3 separate regions of the Homo sapiens genome follow, and all the other regions are linked to region 2. The links come from fine-mapping of genetic effects on gene expression. A gene starts in region 2. Each other region holds a variant in brackets. All regions are shown on one strand. Distances are between the middles of the regions. Region 1 overlaps PRPF6 (pre-mRNA processing factor 6). Region 2 holds the start of ZNF512B (zinc finger protein 512B). Region 3 overlaps PRPF6 (pre-mRNA processing factor 6).

Region 1 (7,362 bases), 57 kb before region 2:
TGATTTAAAGAGCACAAACCCAGATAGCAGACACACAAAACACTGGCTTGGGAATAGCAAGGAGTGACTTATTTACTTTAGCAAAGCCTTTTATAAGGTTTTATGGCTGCACTATCAGAGTGTCACCCAGAAGTCACTCTGGGAGGTGAACGCACAGGGCAGGACCAAGGTAGCACCAGGCAGACACAAGCCTCCCTGTGGGGAGCCTCTCTCATCTGTCGGGGGCCTGCGGGCAGGGGAGAGGAGGTGCCCCTACAGGCAAGCCTGTGGGGGCGGCACCCAGACCTCTGGAGACCAAGCACCACTGCCACCCAGTGCTGGGGAGAAGGGATGGAGAGAATCAAAAGCCAGCACTAGGAAGGCTGTTGTCTCTGCATGACCCATGGCGGGGCAGGTGGAGGGGAAGCCGGACACAGGAGAGCTCCTGGGGCCAGACACGCCACCTCTGCCAGGTGAGCCCACGTCCTGAGCTGCAGCCTCAGGAACCCAGGGTTCTTCCAAGAACTCCCTTCACCCCACATGGTCACTTCCCAGCCTCCTGACCCACACTCAGGCCCAGCTCCTTCCCAGACTGTCATCCTCTTTCTAGAAGGAAACAGGGACCCTGGGGGTCGGGGATGGCCCTGAGCTCCCTGCTGTGCCCCACACCTGGCGGGTCTTTGCCCACATGTGCCTAGAGTCTGCATGCTCTGCCCCATGGCTACCCGCTGCTGCCTGCAAGGTTCCAGAGTCACGTCCCCAGTGAGTCTCTGACCCAGCGGCCAGCGCACCAGTGTGAATCACACGCGTCCCCAGTGAGTCTCTGACCCGGCGGCCAGCACACCAGTGTGAATCACATGTGTCCCCAGTGAGTCTCTGACCCGGCGGCCAGCGCACCAGTGTGAATCACATGCGTCCCCAGTGAGTCTCTGACCCGGCGACCAGAGCACCAGTGTGAATCACATGCGTCCCCGGTGAGTCTCTGACCTGGCGGCCAGCGCACCAGTGTGAATCACACGCGTCCCCAGTGAGTCTGTGACCCGGCGGCCAGCGCACCAGTGTGAATCACATGCGTCCCCAGTGAGTCTCTGACCACGGCACCCTCAGGTGTGTCTGCCAGGAGAGGCGCCTGCCCCAGACCACAGCAGGAGCGACGGCAGCCGAGGATCGGGGAAGCCCACCCTGCTGCCGGGCATCTTTACAATGACCAGGAAGAGGCAGACAGACTCTGGAAAAAGAGCCCATTAGGACCCCGAGGTTCAGCAATCCTGTGGGGGCCCCACTCACTTGGCCACGGCCAGGAGCACATGGGGGTCATGCTCACACTTCTTCAGGGCATCCACGCTCTTGGTCCTCCTCTGGGGCCTTGCCTCGAGGAAGATGGCCTCAGACCACAGGATACCTATAATTCAGAAACAAAGAACAAAGATTTGCACTCCAGCCTCTGGTTCCGGAAAGGTGCCCAGCCTACAGATTCTAACCCGGGACGTCCTCAGACCACGACAGGGGCCTCCCACACACGGCTCGCAGAACTTGTGCAAGGAGAACCACAAAGGATGAGCACTCTGGCCCACCCAAAACCATGGCAGCCCTGAGGGCACAGACTGGACACCCTGCAGAGTCTCACTCTGTCATTCAGGGTGGAGTGCAATGGCGCAATCTCAGCTCACTGCAACCTCCCACTCCCGGGCTCAAGCAATTCTCCTGCCTCAGCCTCCCGAGTAGCTGGGATTACAGGCGCCCGCCACCATGCCCAGCTCATTTTTGTATTTTAGTAGAGACGGGGTTTCACCATGTTGGCCAGGCTGGTCTCAAGCAATGGACTCCTGGACTCAAGCAATCCTCCCGCCTCAGTCTCTCAAAGTGCTGAGATTACAGGCATGAGCCACCACACCTGGCCAATTTCTTTTAAATTTTAAAAGAAAAAGAAATGATAACACTTCAGAAATGAAATCAAATTCTCCCATTTTGAGGCCAAGAATTTCATTAAGTTGTCTTAACGGCCGAGTATAGCTGAAACTTTTGACTGAAATGATTCACACAAACTACACATTTTAATAAAGTCCGTCTGAAGCCTGAGCCCCCACTCCCTCAGGAAGTGCCAGCCCTGCGGAGTCTGGGAAGCCAGGAAGCACCCCCTTACCGGAGTCAAGGCACCCCCTTACCGGAGTCAGGGCACCCCCTTACCGGAGTCGGGGCACCCCCTTACCGGAGTTGGGGCACTCCTGCAGCGCCTTGGCCATGAGTGTATTTGCGATGTTCTTCAGCCCCGCACGGTACTCCAGCCGCACGGACTCCAACCTGAGGAGACAGGCCCCCGGAGGTCCCACAGCCGTCTACCAACAGCACATATTCTGGTAGCTTCTGGGAAGCCTTGTCTGAAAGGGCTCTCCACCCAGTCACAGCAGCAAAAACTCCATTCCCTCCACAGCAGAGCTCATCCACCACAGAAACAAGGCGCTGGGGCCCACATCCCTGCCAGCCCCACTGGCAACCGCCCCAAGGCAAGACCTCAGATCCTGACGCTGTCCAGATGCAGGTGAAGGCATCCAGAACAAACAAGACCAGACTGGGAGAGCCAGGGCCGCACAAGGCACCCAGAAGCTGCCTGTCTGCGGCAGTGCCTGCACAGTGCTCCAGCCCCGTCACCCTGAGCTGGACGCAGCACCTCCATGAACAGAGCCTGCACCTAGCAGGCTCCTGTCCACCTCCAGGGCTCTCCACGCCACCTCCTCTGTGGAGCTGGCTCTCCGGGGTCCATCCTTCCCTCGTCCCAGCCATCATTAACCCCTCCCTCTCCCAGGCGCCCTCCATCAGAACACAAATTAAACTGCATCAAACCATCTACAGGCCTGTCACAGTACCTAGGCCGAACTCTCCTAAGGCAGGGACCGTGATTTTTCATGGCCAGCACCTACCGCCCCCCAAGCCCCTGAGCCTGGAAGCACTGCACGAGTGACTCCACACAAGCAGCTGGGTGACGGCGGCCCACCTGATGGGGAAGCTGTGCCCAGAGGCCAGGCTGCCCCCTCCAGGACTCACCACAGCCCAGGGTTCTTTGGGTTCTTCAGACGAGACTTTTCCAAAATGGCCCGTGCTCGAGTAAGCTGCCCAATCTTCTCCTCCAGCCGAGAGAGCAAAAGCCACAGGGGTGTGGAGTGGGGACACTTCTTCAACTGCAACCAACAAGTAAGAGAGCAGCTCAGGTGGTGTCTATGAAGAACTGGGACACAGCCATGCCCAGCTTCTCATCTGCAGTGGGTGACCGAGTCCCTCAGGGCTGCCATGTCCATGGAAAAACACCCCTCACACTCTGCATTTGTGGGTGTACAGGTGTGCGGTGGTGCTGTGGACCTGTGCACACAGGTCTGTACGTACCAGCCTTTACTGCAGGTGTGCCACACTCTGCACTTCTGAGCAGTGTGTGCAGCTTCATATAAGGAAAAGCACAGAACTCAGCGAGGGGACCAGGGTTTGGGTCCTGAGTCTGCAGCTCCATCAGCTGTAACCCCCAGCCCTCCACATCTCCTCAGAGGCGAAGGGCAATGACCCTGCACCAGGGGGCTCAGTTTTGTGAATGCCGGGTCAGCTGCAGCCCCAGGGTGCAGGCAGAGACGTACCCCCTGGTTATAGGCTTCCCGCGCCTTCTCCATCATCTCCTTCTGCTCCTCGATCTGCCCCTTCATCATCCACAGCTTGGGGAAGTCCTCATAGTGCCGCAGGGCCTCCTCGCACAGATCTTGGGCTGCCCTGATGTTGTCTTGCACCCACTCCAGCTTCACAGACTTCATGAACACCTGTGGGGCAGACATGCACTGTCACGCAGGGCATCAGCTCCAGGGTACGTGCTTCATGGTACACTCATCCTCAACACTGTTACCTGCAGTACTGTGTGTACTTTTGTAAGCTTTTCATAGCCTGTTTGTGTACACAAAAGGTGGGGATAAATATATGTTTTTGTTTTGTTTTGTTTTTTTTTGAGATAGAGTCTCGCTCTGTCACCCAGGCTGGAGTGCAGTGGCACGATCTCGGCTCACTGCAAGCTCCACCTGCTGGGTTCACACCATTCTCCTGCCTCAGCCTCCCAAGTAGCTGGAACTACAGGTGCAAGCCACCACACCCAGCTAATTTTGTATTTTTAGCAGAGTTGGTCAGGCTGGTGTCGAACTCCTGATCTCACAATCTACCTGCCTTGGCCTCCCAAAGTGCTGGGATTACAGGCGTGAGCCACCACACCCGGCCGTATGAACATGTTTGTTGTTGTTGTTGTTGCTGAGACAGTTTCCCTCTTG[C/T]TGCCCAGGCTGGAGTGCAGTGGCGCGATCTCAGCTCACCGCAACCTCCACCCCCGGGGTTCAAGCGATTCTCCTGCCTCAGCCTCCCGAGCAGCTGGGATTACAGGCACGCACCACCACGCCCGGCTAATTTTGTATTTTTAGTAGAGACGGGGTTTCTCCATGTTGGTCAGGCTGGTCTCAAACTCCCACCCTCAGGTGATCTGTCCGCCTTGGCCTCCCAAAGTGCTGAGATTACAGGCGTGAGCCACCGCGCCCGGCCACCACGCCCGGCCACATGAATGTTTTAGTCACATCACAAAGATGAGTGTGCTGTGGTCTCGTTTGCCTGCCGTCATCTCACTCCCATCACCACCCAAGCCAGGCGTGGGGCCCGCATGTGCACACCATGCACCCCAGACGGCCCAGCCCTGCCTGCCACTGCGTACCCGGGCGGTGGGGGCACTGCTCCGCGCCTTGGCCAGCAGCCTCCGGGCCCGCTCGTACTCATCATTCTCGGACTCCAGCTTCACGGCTGCCAGCCAGATCTCCTCACTGTTGGGGTTGGCCTGAAGGGCAAGTACAGCAGCGTCAAGAGGGGTCAGAACACAGGGACCAGCGCCTGATCACACTTAATCAAAAGCAGGCAGGCAGGAACTGAGCCAGGCCTTGCTCTGCTACAGGATTAGTCTGGTCCAAGCCCTTCCCAGGGAGGAGATGACAGAGCCGACTCCAGTGCAAGAATCCAGACTCACCTGGAAACACACAGGCCCATGTTCACTCTGGTACAGTGAGGACAGTGAAGAGGCTGCTAAAGCACTCGAGCAATAACGGGGGCAGGTGCAGGGCCATCTTACCCAGGATCCACCCACGCCCTCTCAAAGCCCCTGAATGGGGCACTCGCATCCTATACTGGTAGACTCATCACACGCAACCTCGCTCTTTCCCCTGAGCTTGATGAAGGGAAGCCAGCTGTCCTGTCCTCATGAGCCCACATGGGCAGGAGAGAGGACTCCCAGGGTGCCACTGACATGTGGAGAAGGCGTCCACAAGCCACGGAAGCTCACACAGCCCAGAGCCCAGTGGACACGCAGGCTCTGCCCTCAAAGCCTCCCCAGCCCGGTGCCCAGGGCTGTCTGAATGCGTCCCAATCAGCACAGCCGCCCAAGAGAGCGGGTGGAAGGAAGCCACGTGACAGGCAGAGAGCGGGCAGGTGGAGGGGACGCTGCAGTTACTCACAGGAGTGATGCCATCTCAAACAGGCAGCTGAGAGCGAAAGGTTAAACCCAGGCCAGTCCCCTCTCATGGTATTTGCTCAAAGAAGGGCACACTCTATGATATTAGCCTGAGCTACAGTAACAGACTTTTATATAGCATTCTATAGCTTATTAAAAAGTATGTTATAAACTATTAGGATGTTATATGTGAAAATAAAGACAAGGTACTTAAAAAAAACACACACCCCCCTCATGACAACCAGGCACCCTCAGGCCTGGCTCAGTGAGGCGGTCTGAATACATCCATTCACATAAGGGCGCCCTCAGCCTGTGTGACCCCGTGTTCCATGTTCTGAAACATTTACCCGTGGTCACACTGAGTGGGGGGACCGAGAGGTAAGTATCTGCCAGGTGGGCTGCTTTCCTGCTCTCGGGCCCCTTCACGGCCCCTGCTCCTGTGGAGCAGCCCCTGGACTCCAGTGCACCCCAACAACAGCACGTGCCACATTGTATGTGGGAGATTTTCAGGCCCCAGTCAGCACCCAGGTCAGCTCCTGTGTGCACAGGCCCCTCACCACACAGGCAACCCTCACCCACCTGGAAGGCCAGGGCCAGGATGCTCCTTGCTGCAGGCACATCCCCTGCCAGCCACTTGGACTTGGCGCCCATGAGCCACAGCACCTCTGCTTTGGGGCAGTGGGCCACAGCCCTCTGCAGGAGTGCTTCCAGGGACTCCCTGCAAGATAAGAGGCCACGGTCACCAGAGGCAGGGCCATAAACCAGAACACACATCACACTCAGCCATGGCGTGGGCACGCCAGAAAGACAGTTACTGCTCCAAAGTTCGATGCTATAAATGATTGACCAGATTTTACAATGGGGAGAGTGTGGGGAAATCTTTCCTCTCCATAAAGGTTCTAAAATCAACTACTGAAGAGGGTTCTACAAAGGAATGCATTGTTTAAATAGCAGAGCTGGAGAGACGAACTTCACAAGAGAACCTTTTACAGCCGTGTGTCCTGGAAGCAGCAATAACCTCAGTCTGTGACAGGGGAGGCCTTTTCATCTTGAACCACAGAGCACAAGCGCACCCCGGACCCACTGATAAAGATTATGATCCCAGGTTCACTCTCCCGGCATCCAAAAGAATTATCTTATAGGAAGAAAGTGATTTCAGGTCACTATTGAGCAAAACTGCCAGCCGTGGGCATCAGGTCTGATGCTCCTGGACTCTCATGTGGCCCACCACCCTCAGTCACATCAATGACCCCTTTGGGCCTCAGTGAGTGCGACAGCAAGACAAAGTGACCACACACAATCACACTGTGTGGAGCAAGGGCCAGCAAAGCAACCGTGCTCTCCAGAGGACCAGCTCCCCCAGCACTACTGCCTCTCCTCATCCCTGCAAGCATGCACTCGGGAGAAGGCAGGGAAGTCGGAGGGCACTGCCCACTGTGCCCAGGGGTCAAGGGCAGCAGTTCATATTCAGGTCACGGGCCGAGAGACCTCAGCCTACACCTGGCACCGCCCTGTTCTTCACTCAGACTGCCCCAGGTGACCTTCTACAGAGGGGCACCATGGCAGCCATTTCAAAACGTCCCCAAAGGAGATCACTCCCAAACACAGACCAGCTGGTGGGCATGGGGAGGGGGCCAGGTCTTCAGGAGGACACATGGAAAGACACCCTGAAGAGGCTGAGATTAAATCACACCAGAAAAGCAAAGAGACAATGGCTCAACATTCTCAGCTGTAGCCCCAGTGAAACCAGCAGGGCCTGTCCTCACCTGGTACAGGGAGCATCACCCGAGGACCTGGGAGAGGACGGACAGAGGGTGCGTGGGGACACGAGCCCAATGCCCTTGAGAGCTATCCATTTAAAACAATAAACTGCAACG
Region 2 (6,643 bases):
AAATCCAGCTCCCTCAGGGCCTCCTGGGGCGACTCCTCACCTCTCCAGCTTCCAGTGGCTGCCGGGGGAACTCGGGCGCATGGGCATTACCCGTCTCCGCCTCTGTAATCAGATCACCTCCTCCTCTTCTGTCTCTCAAATCTCCCTCTGTCTCTCTCTTATAAGGATGCTTGGATTTGGGGCCACCTGGGTAATACAGGATAATCTCCTCATCACAAGATCTTTCATCACATCTGCAAATACCCTTTTCCCAATAAGATCCCATTCACACGTTCAGGGATAAAACACAAACATCTGGCCTGGTACGGTGGCTCACGCCTGCAATCCCAGCACTGTGGGAGACCAAGGCAGGAGTGTCGCTGAAGGCCAGGAGTTCAAGACCAGCCTGTGTGACATAGCAAGACCCCATCTCTACAAAAAACTTTTGAAACTAGCCAGGCATGGTGGCGCATACCCGTAGTCCCAGCTACTTGGGAGGCTGAGGCAGGAAGATTCCTTGAGCCCAGGAGTTCAAGGCACAGTGAGCTCTAACCACACAACTGCACTCCAGCCTGGGCAACAGAGCAAGACCCTGTCTCAAACACAGATCACAGCACACACACACACACACACACACACCACACACACACAGCAATCAGACACATAAGAGCATAAACCACACACAGAGACTCAATGACACTGACACCAGCAAACACCAACACACACAAACACATGCATGTAGTTGGCCAGGCACACAGACACAAAGGTATGTAACAGCATGCCCCCATACAAAGATGTCATTACACAAATACACAAATACTAGCATGCAGACACACAACGACCTCCTAACACATAGAAACACATGGGACACGGCACATCCCCGGTGCACACAAACACACTGTATTCCACGACACCCTGGCATGTAGATGCTCACAGAAAACAGCCGTCCCTCACCAGCACCCTGACACTGAGACATGCCGCAGCCTGGACACATGGATACTGAAATCCAGACACATCGTCCCCAGGTACCCTGAGGTCTAGTCGCCCAGATGCTAAAATACAGACAGGCATTGGTCTCACCTAGCATGGGACACTGTCATATCCTGACACGGCAATGTCCAAACAGGTCGCATGTATGGACACCCAGACTTACACAGGGAGAGCTGACGGCCTTGGCTGCACCTAAGGGGACACACACTGACCCCTCAGGAAATCCTGCTGGTCCCGTCCCCAGGGTGGGAAAGGTCAACAAGGGAAGGACGTGATGACGCTAGCCTCACAGGGAATGCCCTCCCCTTCCTCCTCGGGTCACACAGGCTGGTGTGCACTGGCCTCTCTGACTCAGATTCCCGAAGGAAGGATTGACTGACTGCCTCTTCTATAAGAGCCAACCTCCAATCTCCATGTGAGTGCTCTGCACCAGCCTTGAGTGAAGCAGATCCCAGGCCCCTTTGAGGAAAGGCAAAAATCTTACTGCCCAACCCCCTAGCAGTGCCTCTGAGCTTGCTCCACGGGGTACAGGGAAAGGGGCCGACTGGGCCGGAAGGGCCCCAGCGAAGGAGGCACACCTGGTAGTTCCATTTCCTGACTAGCAACTTCCAGCCCACATCAATTTTAAGGAGTCCAGAATATTTGTAGTATGCAAAAAGGGGCATTACGAAACTTTTAAAAGTCTGTTTTAATTATAAAAGTAATATATGCACATGGTTTTAAAAAAAATGCTGGCTGGGTGCGGTGGCGCATGCCTGTAATTCCAGCACTTTGGGAGGCCGAGGTGGGTGGATCACGAGGTCAGGAGTTCGAGACCAGCCTGGCCAGCTTGGTAAAACCCCGTCTCTACTAAAAATACAAAAAATCAGCTGGGTATGGTGGCACGTGCCTGTAATCCCAGCTACTCAGGGGGCTGAGGCAGAATTGCTTGAACCCAGGAGGCGGAGGTTGCAGTGAGCAGAGATGGCGCCACTGCAGTCCAGCCTGGGCAACAGAGAGAGACTCCATCTCAAAAAAAAAAAAAAAAAAATGCTCTATGGGCACAAGATGAAAACCCAGAGTCTCCTTGACTCTTCCCTCCTGAGGCCTGAGGCCTTCCCTGGGAGATGGGTGCTGTGAACAGGTAAGAATGGCCCTCCTAAGGCCAGGGGCAGTGGCTCACGCCTGTAATCCCAGCACTTTGGGAGGCCGAGGTGGGCGGATCACGAGGTCAGGAGATTGAGACCATCCTGGCTAACAGGGTGAAACTCCGTCTCTACTAAAAATACAAAAAAATTAGCCGGGCGTGGTGGTGGGCGCCTGTAGTTCCAGCTACTTGGTTGGCTGAGGCAGGAGAATGGCATGAACCCAGGAGGCGGAGCTTGCAGTGAGCCGAGATCGCACCACTGCACTCCAGCCTGGGCTACAGAGCCAGACTCTGTCTCAAAAAAAAAAAAAAAAAAAAATGCCCTCCTAGCCAGAGGCGGTGGGTCACACCTGTAATGCCCACACTGTGGGAGGCTGAGGCAGGAAGATGGCTTAAGCCCAGGAGTTCAAGACCAGCCTAGTCAACACAGAAAGACCTCGTCTCTATGAATACTTTAAAACTTAGCCAGGTGGGGTGGCACACACCTGTAGTTCCAGCTACTTGGGAGGCCGAGGTGGGAGGATTGCTTGAGCCCAGGTGGTAGAGGCTGCAGTGAGCCAAGATCACACCACTGCATTCCAGCCTGAATGACAGAGCGAGACCCTATCTCAAGAATAAAAAAAGAACGGAGAAGGAGAAAGGAGAGGAGGGGAAGGGAGGGGAGGAGAAGGGAGGGGAGGGGAGAAAAAGAAAGAGAGAGAAAGGAAGGAAGGAAGGAGAAAGGGAGGGAGGGAAGAGAAGGAAGGGAAGGAAGGAGAAAAGGAAGGGAGGAAGGGAAGGGAAGGAAGGAAGAAGGAAGGAAAGGAAGGAAGAAGGGAGGGAGGAAGGTAAGGGAAGGAAGAGAAGGAAGGGAGGAAGGGAGGGAGGGAAGAGAAGAGAAGGAAGGAAAGAGAAAAGGAAGGAAGGAAGAAGGAAGGAAAGGAAGGAAGAAGGGAGGGAGGGAGGGAAGGGAAGGAAGAGAAGGGAGGGAAGGAAGAAGGAAGGAAGGAAGGAGAGAAGGAAGTAAGAGAGGGAAGGAAGGAAGGCAGGCAGGCAGGCAGGCAGGCTCTCCTGGGGGAGATTCTTGTGGGTCCTGTGCCAGTCCCGTGTGGTGCCTCCTACCAGTCCTCTTTAGGAGAGCCAACCTTTCTCTGTCTCATTCATTCCCAAGTCCTGTGCTGTCAGTGCCCCGCCACCTCCAGACCACTCAGCCCACACCGGACCCCAGTGCCCCCTGCCTGCAGAAGCCCAAGCTGTGGGGCAGAGAAGGCCCTGGCACTGGTTCAGAACCACTGCCCCCAGAGCTGGGAAAGGGTGACCCAATGGTCAGTGACCCCAGTAAAACCCCATGGCCTTAAGCCGCCAGGCACCTCCGGGGGTCAGTCGCAAAAGTGGTCTCAGGGCCAGTTGGAAGAAGGCTGAATCCTGCGCTGCCGGTGCACGGCCCCCAGGGCCAGAGGTCAGGGTCCCGAGCCCAGAGACCACACTCGCCGCGCGGGCCAGGATGCGGCGGAATCAGGTCGCCTCAATCCGTGCGCGCCGGACTCCGGGCAGTGCCTAGCGCCCCTATCGGGCCTCAGTTTACCCCACTGTCCAAAAAACGTCCCCCGCCCCAGGACGGCAGAACCGGCTACTCTGGACTGCGGGCCCGGCCGACGGGGGCGGAACCGCGGAGCGGGGGAACCACAGGCCAGCGCCGGGCCCCCGCCCCCGCCCCCGCCCCCTCCCCGCCCCCTCCCCGTCGCGGAGCGGCCGCGGGAATAACGCGAGAGTTCGCCCCCTCCCCCCCGCAGTAAAACTGTCAAAGGTGGGAGGGGCGGGAGCGCGCATGTGCGCAGCGCGGCGCGCAGCCTGCGCCGCCCGGACCCAGCGCCCCGCGCCCCGCGCCCCCCGCCCCGGCCCGGCCCGGCCCGGCCGCAGCCCCGCTGGGCGCCGCAGGTAAGCGCCCGGCCGCGCCCCGGACCCATTCTGGCCGCAGCCCCGGCGCCCACCGCGCCCCGGATCTCGACCCTGCGCGCAGGCCAAGGAGGGGGCCGGGCCCGGAGCCCCCCCGCCCCCCGCCGCGCCCGAGCCCCCGCGCCCCGCGCCGGCGCCGTCTTCCTGCCTCCTCCTTCTCCAGAAAAAGTCGCCATTTTGGTTCACTGCCTTCGCCCCCCCACCCCGCGCCCGCGATCGGCCCTGCCCGGCCAGGCCGAGGCCCGCGCCCCGCGCCCGCTCCCGGCCCCAGGTGACAGGTGGGTGGCGAGGCTGGCCCCAGGTGCGCGTCCCTGGCCGCGCTCACCCGCGCGCCAGGCCTGGGCCGGGGTCCCGGGCCGAACGGCCTACGCGGCGGACCCGCTGCTGGCGTCTCCTGCGCGCAGCGCGGCGGAGCCCCCTCTCCCCGCGAGGGCTCTGTGTCCCCGCTGGGCTCGGGAGGGCCGAAGCCCCTTCTCATCCGGGGCGCCAGTCGCGTCTCTGCCTCCCAGGCTGGCCCTGGCCTCAGGCCCCACTATTCTGAATTCTTCTCCCAGGCTTCAGAAAAATTGGAAGTGGGGCCTCAGCAGGCACCTGCACCCCAGGCCACCGGGGTCATCAGGTGCTGGGATGACTCATGCCGGCCCTGTCTCCTTTCAAAAGTTGCAAAGTGAGGACTTCCAGAGAACTTTGTCCCCGGACACTGGCCTCCCCCTTGGCAATGGGCAGTGACTGTCCTGACCTCTGACCTCAGCTCTCTGGCCCTCCTGGACACAGCAGCCCCTTCCCATCCCCTCGGATCCAAGTTAATTAGAAGCTATCAGGAGGGGGCCACCTGCCCACTCAACCCTCACCCTGCTTCCTGTCCCACCCCCTTCCGTGGCTTTTCCACAGGGCTGGGCCCAGAGTCTCCTCTGCTCCCCAGCTCTCAGGATGGGGTTCCCAGCAGCACAGGCCCTCGGGGGCCCCAGCCTTGGGCAGCAGGGCGTTCTCTCTGGCCAGCATCCTGGGCCTTCACTGCTGGTGCTTCCACGACTTGTTTGGCTGAAGTGGTAGTGGTGGGTCTGTAGGCAGAGGACTGAGAGGATCCAGAGAGAGGTGGGGGGCGGGTCAGCCTGCCAAGCCTGGAGACAAGTCTGCGAAGAGCATCAGGTAGGATAGTTCAGCCGGCACAGGGACGGGAGCTTGGTGCAGTGCCAGATTGGGCCAGGGGTCCTCAGTGCCCACCTTGGCTGTTTTCCATCTGTGTCTGGAGAGAAGATTCCAAGGGTACCTGCCTGGGTAGGCTGGCATTGCATCAAGTCAGCATGGGAAGGTATGAGGGCCCCAGTGAGAAGCTGTGCCCCCACTGCTGGGCCTGGGCAGCTTGTGAGCCAGCAGCCATCATCAGAGACATAATTGGCCCCTGGAGGAATGTTGCCAGCCTCCTTCCTCCTGCGCAAGGCACCTCTCCCAGGGGCACACCCCCTCCCAGCACTGGGTAGGAGTGCATCACCTTCGGCATCATCTTCGCAGCTGTGGGGCTACGCACACTGTGGAGCTGCGTACACTGTAGAGCTGCGTGTTGGGAAGGGGGTCTGGAAGTTGGTGAGGGTCTCAGGACAGGACTAGATCCTATCAAACTGATGATGACTCCTGGGTTATCTGGGGAGACCTTGGCTGGCAGCCCCTCCCCTAAGTCAGAAGCCCCCATCACTTGCTTTTCCCACGTGAACAAAACCACAGGAAGGCAGGCCCCTCTTCCCTGACCAGAGAGGACCTGCCAAGGGCAGGGCTCCAGGGCAGCCTCACCACGTGTTCCAAGTGGGGCCCGTCAGGCTTCACAGATTGTCTACTTGCTCTGCAGAGATGACGGATCCTTTCTGCGTTGGAGGCCGTCGGCTCCCGGGGTCCAGCAAGAGTGGTCCCGGGAAGGATGGCAGCCGAAAGGAGGTCCGACTTCCAATGCTGCATGACCCACCGAAGATGGGTAAGAGGAGTCAGGGCCAGAGTCAATTCCAGATGGTTCTGGGCAGCAAGTGGTAGGAGTGGACCATTGCCCTGGGCGTCCTGTCTCCAGGTACCCAGCTAGGCCCCTAGAGTTCCCAAGGACCTTACCAGGGTAGGGGTTGCCTTGGACATAGCCCAGGGTCCTGGGTTCTTGTCCTCAGCTGGCCGCAGCCCCTGCCCCCGGTGCCCTCGTGTTGGGACAGCGGTGCTCACTGTGGGCCTGTGCAGCCGCCGGTGGTAGGCGGTGCTACACAGCTTCCGAGCCTTGCTGTGTTGTGTGCTGCAGGGATGCCGGTGGTCCGTGGTGGACAGACAGTGCCCGGCCAGGCCCCTCTCTGCTTTGACCCGGGAAGTCCAGCCAGTGACAAGACAGAAGGGAAGAAAAAGGGGCGGCCAAAAGCCGAGAACCAGGCCCTCCGAGACATTCCTGTGAGCTCCCTCAGGGCCATGGTGGGGCTCATGCTGGGGTCTCCCTATCCAGCCACTGCCCTGCCCTGATTTGTCCTCTGCACATCTGGTACCAACTCTATGCCTCAAGATGTGGGCACTGGCCTGGCAGACTTCACGTGGCCTGGCTTTGTATCTGATGTGCCGGGAGATTCGGGGGATCGCGTTGGTGGGCTCCTA
Region 3 (7,362 bases), 26 kb before region 2:
CAGGAAATACCTCACCTTGGGGCACATCTCCGTCCCCTTCATGATAAGGTTCCGAGCTACTTGTAGCTTCCCAGTGACTTCTTCCAGGCGGGCTGATGCAATCCAGGCTGGCGGGTGATGAGGGTTCGTCTCCCGAACAGACTTGAGGAGCAGTCGCGCCTTCTTGATATCACTATGAGAGGGAGAGTGCACACGGCATCAGGCCATGCTGTCAGGGGTGCACCCGAGACCTGGGATGAGGGCACCCACTTCACAGTCACAATGTAAGAACTATCAGTCCTGATGTCCTGAGTTACAAAAACCAACTCAAAACCTCAGTGCGCACTATTCCAAGCCTCTGTAGCCTCCCCGCAGACAAACGCTGAGAACCGAAGGTCCAGATGGGACATGTGGGACACAGCCAGCTGCTTTCCTGCCCAGCACAGGCAGGGACTTTGCAGTATCATATGTAACACATTGAGTGTACGCAATGAATGGATACAGATACATTTCAAATGGAAAAAACAAACTACTCCACTTTACATTTCTTAGAACCGCCATGTCCCATTTTGACAGCATACTGTCCATATAAAATCCAAAATACCCTAGGCAACTAGAGTCTCCATCCCAGCCCAGCGATTCTGCAAAGCACTCACTTGATGTCTCCTCCGTGTGTCGGGATCATGGAATTTAAATCCGTCAGGTAGCCTTTGGGGTCAACGACGGTCTGTCCACTCACGGAGTCAGACACCTGTGAGACAGGCCAAGCTAAGAGTCAGCTGGACATGACCAGGTGCAAAACAAAGTTCTCAGAGGGTCCCTGGTGCCCCTCCCACAACCCTGAGAGAGCAGTCAGAAGGAGAAGGAAAACAGCCTTCATTTCACTCAGACAACACCTTGTGATAATAACAAATTTCTTCTGTATGGAAAAAGATCTATTTTTTTTTTTTTTTTGAGATGGAGTCTCGCTCTGTCGCCCAGGCTGGAGTGCAGTTGTGCAATCTCGGCTCACTGCAAGCTCCACCTCCCAGGTTCACGCCATCCTCCTGCCTCAGCCTCCCGAGTGGCTGGGACTACAGGCGCCCGCCACCACACCTGGCTAATTTTTTTGTATTTTTAGTAGAGACGGGGTTTCACCGTGTTAGCCAGGATGGTCTCGATCTCCTGACCTCGTGATCCGCCCGCCTCGGCCTCCCAAAGTGCTGGGATTACAGGCGTGAGCCACCGCGTCTGTCCAAGATCTATATTTTTATTTATTTTTTTGAGACAGGGTCTCACTCTGTCACCCAAGCAGGAGTGCAGTGGCAATCATAGCTCAGTGCAGCCTCCAGCTCCTGGGCTCAAGGAATCCTCCTGCCTCAGCCTCCCAAGATTCTGTCTCTACAAAAAAAAGTGTAATTTTTGACCAGGCGTGGTGGCTCACGCCTGTAAACCCAGCACTTTGGGAGGCCAAGGTGGGTGGATCACAAGATCAGGAGTTCGAGACCAGCCTGGCCAGGATGGTGAAACCCCGTGTCTACTAAAAATACAAAAATTAGCCAGGCGTGGTGGCACATGCCTGTAGTCCCAGCTACTCAGGAGGCTGAGGCAGGAGAATCACATGAACCTGGGAAGCAGAGGCTGCAGTGAGCCGAGATCACGCCACTGCCCTCCAGCCTGGGTGACAGAGCAAGACCCCGTCTCAAAAAAAAATAAATAAAATTTTTATTAAAAAAGAAAGAATAGAAAGCAGGGTCTCTGACAAATATCTGTACACCCGTATTCACAGCAGCATTATTCACAATAGTCAAAAGGTGAAAGTGGTCCAAGTGTCCGTCAGCGAATAAACAGGTCAGCGAATGCGGTCTACATAGATGAGCGAATGCGGTCCACACACACCAAAGAGTCAAGTCTCATCCTGCCTTAAACTGAGAACATGCTGGCCGGGGCGCCGGGGCTCATGCCTGTAATCCCAGCACTTTGGGAGGCCGAGCCACGTGGATCACTGGAGGTCAGGAGTTCGAGACCAGCCTGGCCAACATGGTGAAATCCCATCTCTAACTAAAAATACAAAAAAATCACACTTCTAATCCCAGCATCCTGGGAGGCTGAGGCGAGTGGATCACGAGGTCAGGAGATCAAGACCATCCTGGCCAACATGATGAAACCCCGTCTCTACTAAAAATACAAAAATTAGCCAGACATGGTGGCACACGCCTATAGTTCCAGCTACTCGGGAGGCTGAGGCAGGAGAATCACCTGAACCCAGGAGGTGGAGGTTGCAGTGAGCCGAGATCACACCACTGCACTCCAGCTCGGGTGACGGTGCCAGGCTCCGTCTCAAAAAAAAAAAAAAAAATTAGCTGGGCTTGGTGGTGCACACCTGTAGTCCCAGCTACTTGGGAGGCTCAGGTGGGAGAATCATTTGAACCCGAGAGGCGGAGGCTGCAGTGAGCCAAGACCATGCCATTGAACTCCAGCCTGGGTGACAGAGAGAGACTCTGTCTCAAAAAAAAAAAAAAAAAAAAGAACATGCTGACGCATGCTGCACCATGAGCTAATTGAAATAAGCCTGTCACAGTAAGGTAAATACTGTATGATTCCAGTCATATAAGATCCAGAGAGTAGTGACATTTATAGAAACAGAGAGAACGGTGGATGCCAGGGGCTGGGGAGAAAGCGCACGGGGACTCAATGTTTAACAGGTACGGAGTTTCAATTTGGGAAGATGAAAACAGTTCTGGAGATGAATGGTGATGAGGTTGTATAACAACATGAACATAATTATGTCAGTGAAGGTATGTACAGTCAAGAATGATTAAAATGGTAAATTCTGTGTTACATATATTTTACCACAAAAAAATTACTGTGACAGTTTTATTTATTTATTGAGACAGTCTCACTCCGTAACCCAGGCTGGTGTGCAGAGGCGCGATCATAGCTCATGGCAGCCTCAAACTCCCTAGCTCAAGCAATCCTTCCACCTCAGCCTCTCGAACAGCTGGGACTACAGGCACCACCAGGCCCAGCTATTTCTTTTAGTTTTTGTAGAGACAGAGTCTCACCATCACCATGTTGCCCAGGCTGGTCTTGAACTCCTGACCTCAAGCAATCCTCCTACCTTGGTCTCTCAAAGTGCTAGGATTACAGGCATGAGTGCCTGGCCCAAAAAGTTTTACAATTTCTATGTAAACAAATTTCAGGCTGGGCATGGTAGTTCACACCTGTAATCCCAGCACTTTGTGAGGCCAGCGCGGACAGATCACTTGTGCCCAGGAGCTCCAGCCCAGGTTGGGCAACCTAGTGACACCCCATCTCAACAAAAAATACAAAAATTAGTTGGGTATGGTGGCACATGCCTGTAATCTCAG[C/T]TACTTGGCAGGCTGAGGTGGAAGGATCGCCTTAGCCCAGGGAGGTCAAGGCTGTATGTAGCCAGCCATGATTGTGCCACTTTTTGTTTTTGTTTTTGTTTTTTATTTTGAGACAGTCTCACTCTGTTGCCCAGGCCGGAGTGCACTGGTGCAATCTCGGCTCACTGCAACCTCCAACGCCCGGGTTCAAGCAATTCTCCTGCCTTAGCCTCCCAAGTAGCTGGGATTACAGGCGCCCGCCACCACACCTGGCCAATTTCTGTATTTTTAGTAGAGACGGGGTTTCACCATGTTGGCCAGGCCAAAAGTAGTATGTTCCTTCGTGGTATCTGATATGCATATCAGAAAGAGTTCTGTACTTCACTGGTGTCTAGAGCACCTAGTCTCCAGATCAAAGTACACGTTCCATGCAGGGCCACAAGACAATTTACTGAGAGGCAGGAAAAAAACACACTTTTTAAAAAATTATTATTTTATATTTTAAAAAAAGGCCAAGTGCAGTGGCTCACACCTGTAATCCCCGCATTTTGGGAGGCCAAGGCAGACAGATCACCTGAGGTCAGGAGTTCAAGACCAGCCTGGCCAACATGGTAAAACCCCGTCTCTACAAAAAATACAAAAATTAGCCGGGTGTGGTGGTGGGCACCTGTAATCCCAGCTACTCAGGAGGCTGAGGTAGGAGAATCACTTGAACCCAGGAGGTGGAGGTTGCAGTGAGCCAAGATCACACCATTGCACTCCAGCCTCTGAGTGACACAGCAAGACTCTGGGTCAAAATTTTAAAAATCTGCGGAATTATTCAGGCAAAAATCAAGCCAAAAAAAAAAAAAGGAGAAGGAGAAGAAGGAGGAGGAGGAGAAGGAGGAGAAGAAAAAGGAGAAGAAGAAGAAGGAGAAAAAGAAAACAAAACAAAATTAAACTGTCTAAACCTGTCCACAGGAAAATGCTGTGTGACAAACTCACCTGGCTCAGCCTCATGTCCATCAGAGTGTTCCTCGCTTGGCCAATCTTCCTCATGTCCAGCTCACCTGTGCCAGGTGTCATCAGTCCTGGCGTCATTCCACCTGGGTATGGAGTGTTTAGTCCACCTGGATAGGGTGTGTTAAGACCTCCAAATTGCTGGAGGGGAAGAGAGGAAAGGCAAGAATAAAACAACGGTTTGCACTGCATGCCCAAGAAATTTACTCTCTGAAATACTTCCCCAGTGGCCTGACATATGCACAGCTGTGCAGACAGACTCGGCCACAGCATAGCCATGACCTGCAGAAGCATTGAATCCAACACCACCCACCATTCCTGCCACTGATCTAACAGGACTAAATGGGCCACATGTGCCCTTTTTTGGAAGCTCACAGTTTGTCGGGGATCCACTGAGGTATGGTTCTCTCCGGTCTGTAAATGTTTGGCAAAGAAACTGTCAGGAACAGGGGTCAGCTTCTCATAGCGTGGGTTCCGCTGACGTTTATTTCTGGCATCGCCAACCTCGGGGATGCTCAGCCACTCTTCTTCTGTGACTTCTGCCAACTTCCTCTGGAAATATCCAGCCCCCAAAAACATTAATTCTCTGACAGAATTTCATGTGCCCAGGTAGGACCATGCCCTCTCTCACCCCTAGCCTCCAGATCACCAAGCTTTAGAAGGGATTTGGATGCAGCAACTGTTTTTTACTTTTGTTTTGAGATGGGTCTCATTCTGTTGCCCAGGCTGGATTCAGTGGCACAATCACAGCTCACTGCAGCCTCAACCTCCCAGGCTCAAGTGATCCTCCCACTTCAGCTTCTCAAGTTGCTGGGACCACAAGCGTGGGCCACCATGCCTGGCTAAGTTTTTATTTTTTGTAAAGACAGGTTCTCCCCAAGGCTGGTCTCAAACTCCTGGGCTCAAGTGATCCTCCCACCTCAGCCTCCCAAAGTGCTGAGATTACAGATGTGAGCCACTGTACCCAGCCCCAAAAATAGTTTTCTACTTCACTTAGAAAAATCAATTTAGGCCGGGCACGGTGGCTCATGCCTGTTAATCCCAGCACTTTGGGAGGCCAAAGCGGGCAGATCACCTGAGGTCGGGAGTTCGAGACCAGCCTGACCAACATGGAGAAACCCCATCTCTACTAAAAATACAAAATTAGCCGGGCATGGTGGCACATGCCTGTAATCCCAGCTACTAGGGAGGCTGAGGCAGGAGAATCGTTTGAACCTGGGAGGCGGAGGTTGCGGTGAGCTGAGATCGCGTCATTGCACTCCAGCCTGGGCAACAAGAGCCAAACTCCGTCTCAAAAAAAAAAAAAAAAGAAAAAGAAAAGAAAAATCAATTTATTGGATCTGTTCAACTTCACTAAAATGTAAATTATTCTCTCAAAGCCCAGGGGACACAGTTTAGAAAATCTTACGTATAAATGGGGCCAGACGTGGTGGCTCACGCCTGTAATCCCAGCCCTTTGGGAGGCTGAGGTGGGCAGATCACTAGAGTTCAGGAGTTTGAGACCAGCCTGGTACACATGGCGAAATCCTGTCTTTACTAAAAATACAAAAATTAGCTGGGTATGGTGGCAGGCACCTGTAATCCCAGCTACTTAGGAGGCTGAGGCACAAGAATTGCTTGAACCTAGGAGGTGAAGGTTGCAGTGAGCTGAGACCACGCCACTGCACTCCAGCCAGGGCAACAGAGCCAGACTGCCTCCAAAAAAAAAAAGAAAAAAGAAAAAAGAAAATCTTAGGTATAAATGGAGTCAAAATTACAAAGAAAATAAGTTCATTTGTCCTACCTTTTACAGTAGGGGAAGGGTTTTTTTTTACACACATATAATTAAACATACTGAAGCAAACACTTTCTTCTTCTAAGCAATGACCCCCTAAATTAAAAACGTAAAGTCTCATAAATTCCACGTAAGAGCAGTCTGAGTCTCTGCGGGTTAGGGTGAGAGCGTTAGAAACCGCACACCATTCACCGCTTCATCGGCTCACCTTGAGGTCTGAGAACTGCTGTTGGATTTTGGGGCGTTCCATACGATATTTCTCTATTTCTTCTTTCTCCCTTTGCTCCCTAGGAAATAAAACATGCACACATCAGAAACACTGCATGTCTGTTCTGAAGCAAATTTATTATCCATCTCAATTAAATCACCAAAAAGAACAATTCCATACTCTTAGTAGCTAAATCAAATATATATATATATATATACATATACACACACACACACACACACACACACACACACACACATTTTTTTTTTTGAGATGGAGTCTTGCTCTGTCACCCAGGCTAAAGTGCAGTGGCGCAATCTCAGCTCACTGCAACCTCCACCTCCTGGGTTTAAGTGATTTTCCTGCCTCAGCCTCCCAAGTAGCTGGGATTACAGGTGCTCGCCACCACTCCCAGCTAATTTTTGTGTTTTTAGTAGAGACGGGGTTTCACCATCCTGGCCAGGCTGTTCTCGAACTCCTGACCTTGTGATCTACCCACCTTGGCCTCCCAAAGTGCTGGGATTACAGGTGTGAGCCACCGCACCCAGCCCAAATCAAATATATTTTAAGGTAACTATGAATACATTCTTAGCTGGGCATGGTAGCACACACCTGTAATCACAGCTACTTGGGAGGCTGAGGCAGAATCATTTGAACCCAGGAGGCAGAGGGTGCAGTGAGCCAAGATCGCACCACTGCACTCCAGCCTGGGCAACACAGAGAGACTCTGCCTCTAAATAAATAAATATAAATACATTCGTAAGTCTACTAATTCAATTATCCACCAAATAAAAACATGTAGAAATTCATTAAAATAAAAAAAAAAGATCTTACTTTGATCTAAATACCTCCATTTGGACATGTGTATATTTACTGCTTGAAAATTCACAAAATCCCAAAGGTAGGACCATCCCATAAACACCTAAGAAGGCCAGGCGTGGTGGCTTACACCTGTAATCCCAACGCTTTGGGAGGCCGAGGTGGGCAGATCACCTGAGGTCAGGAGTTCAAGCCTGGCCAATGTGGTAAAACCCCATCTATACTAAAAATATGAAAATTAGCCAGGCGTGGTG

Evidence for each region. PIP is the estimated chance that this variant, and not a neighbour inherited with it, causes the effect. A credible set is the group of variants that fine-mapping cannot tell apart.
Region 1: its variant is the best candidate, but not a certain one, in a credible set for the expression of ZNF512B in whole blood (TOPMed, PIP 0.74).
Region 3: its variant is the best candidate, but not a certain one, in a credible set for the expression of ZNF512B in whole blood (TOPMed, PIP 0.67).

What each region holds. Positions count from the first base shown.
Region 1 is chr20:64,023,396-64,030,757 of GRCh38, reverse strand. PRPF6 (pre-mRNA processing factor 6) reads right to left here. Exons shown (of 21, transcript NM_012469.4): 14 at 6,065-6,203; 15 at 4,700-4,819; 16 at 3,600-3,776; 17 at 3,022-3,155; 18 at 2,189-2,280; 19 at 1,267-1,381. Among named protein-coding and RNA genes, the nearest start is that of C20orf204, 9.1 kb to the left of the region's middle. The variant C/T (reference allele first, on the strand shown) is at 4,272.
Region 2 is chr20:63,967,183-63,973,825 of GRCh38, reverse strand. It overlaps ZNF512B (zinc finger protein 512B), which reads left to right and starts at 3,896. Exons shown (of 17, transcript NM_020713.3): 1 at 3,896-4,012; 2 at 5,874-5,996; 3 at 6,303-6,445. The coding sequence starts at 5,876. RefSeq lists a silencer at 3,709-3,788 and enhancers at 4,471-5,006, 5,007-5,544.
Region 3 is chr20:63,992,413-63,999,774 of GRCh38, reverse strand. PRPF6 (pre-mRNA processing factor 6) reads right to left here. Exons shown (of 21, transcript NM_012469.4): 4 at 6,290-6,368; 5 at 4,683-4,859; 6 at 4,293-4,448; 7 at 636-730; 8 at 16-172. Among named protein-coding and RNA genes, the nearest start is that of PRPF6, 15 kb to the right of the region's middle. RefSeq lists an enhancer at 1-124. The variant C/T (reference allele first, on the strand shown) is at 3,330.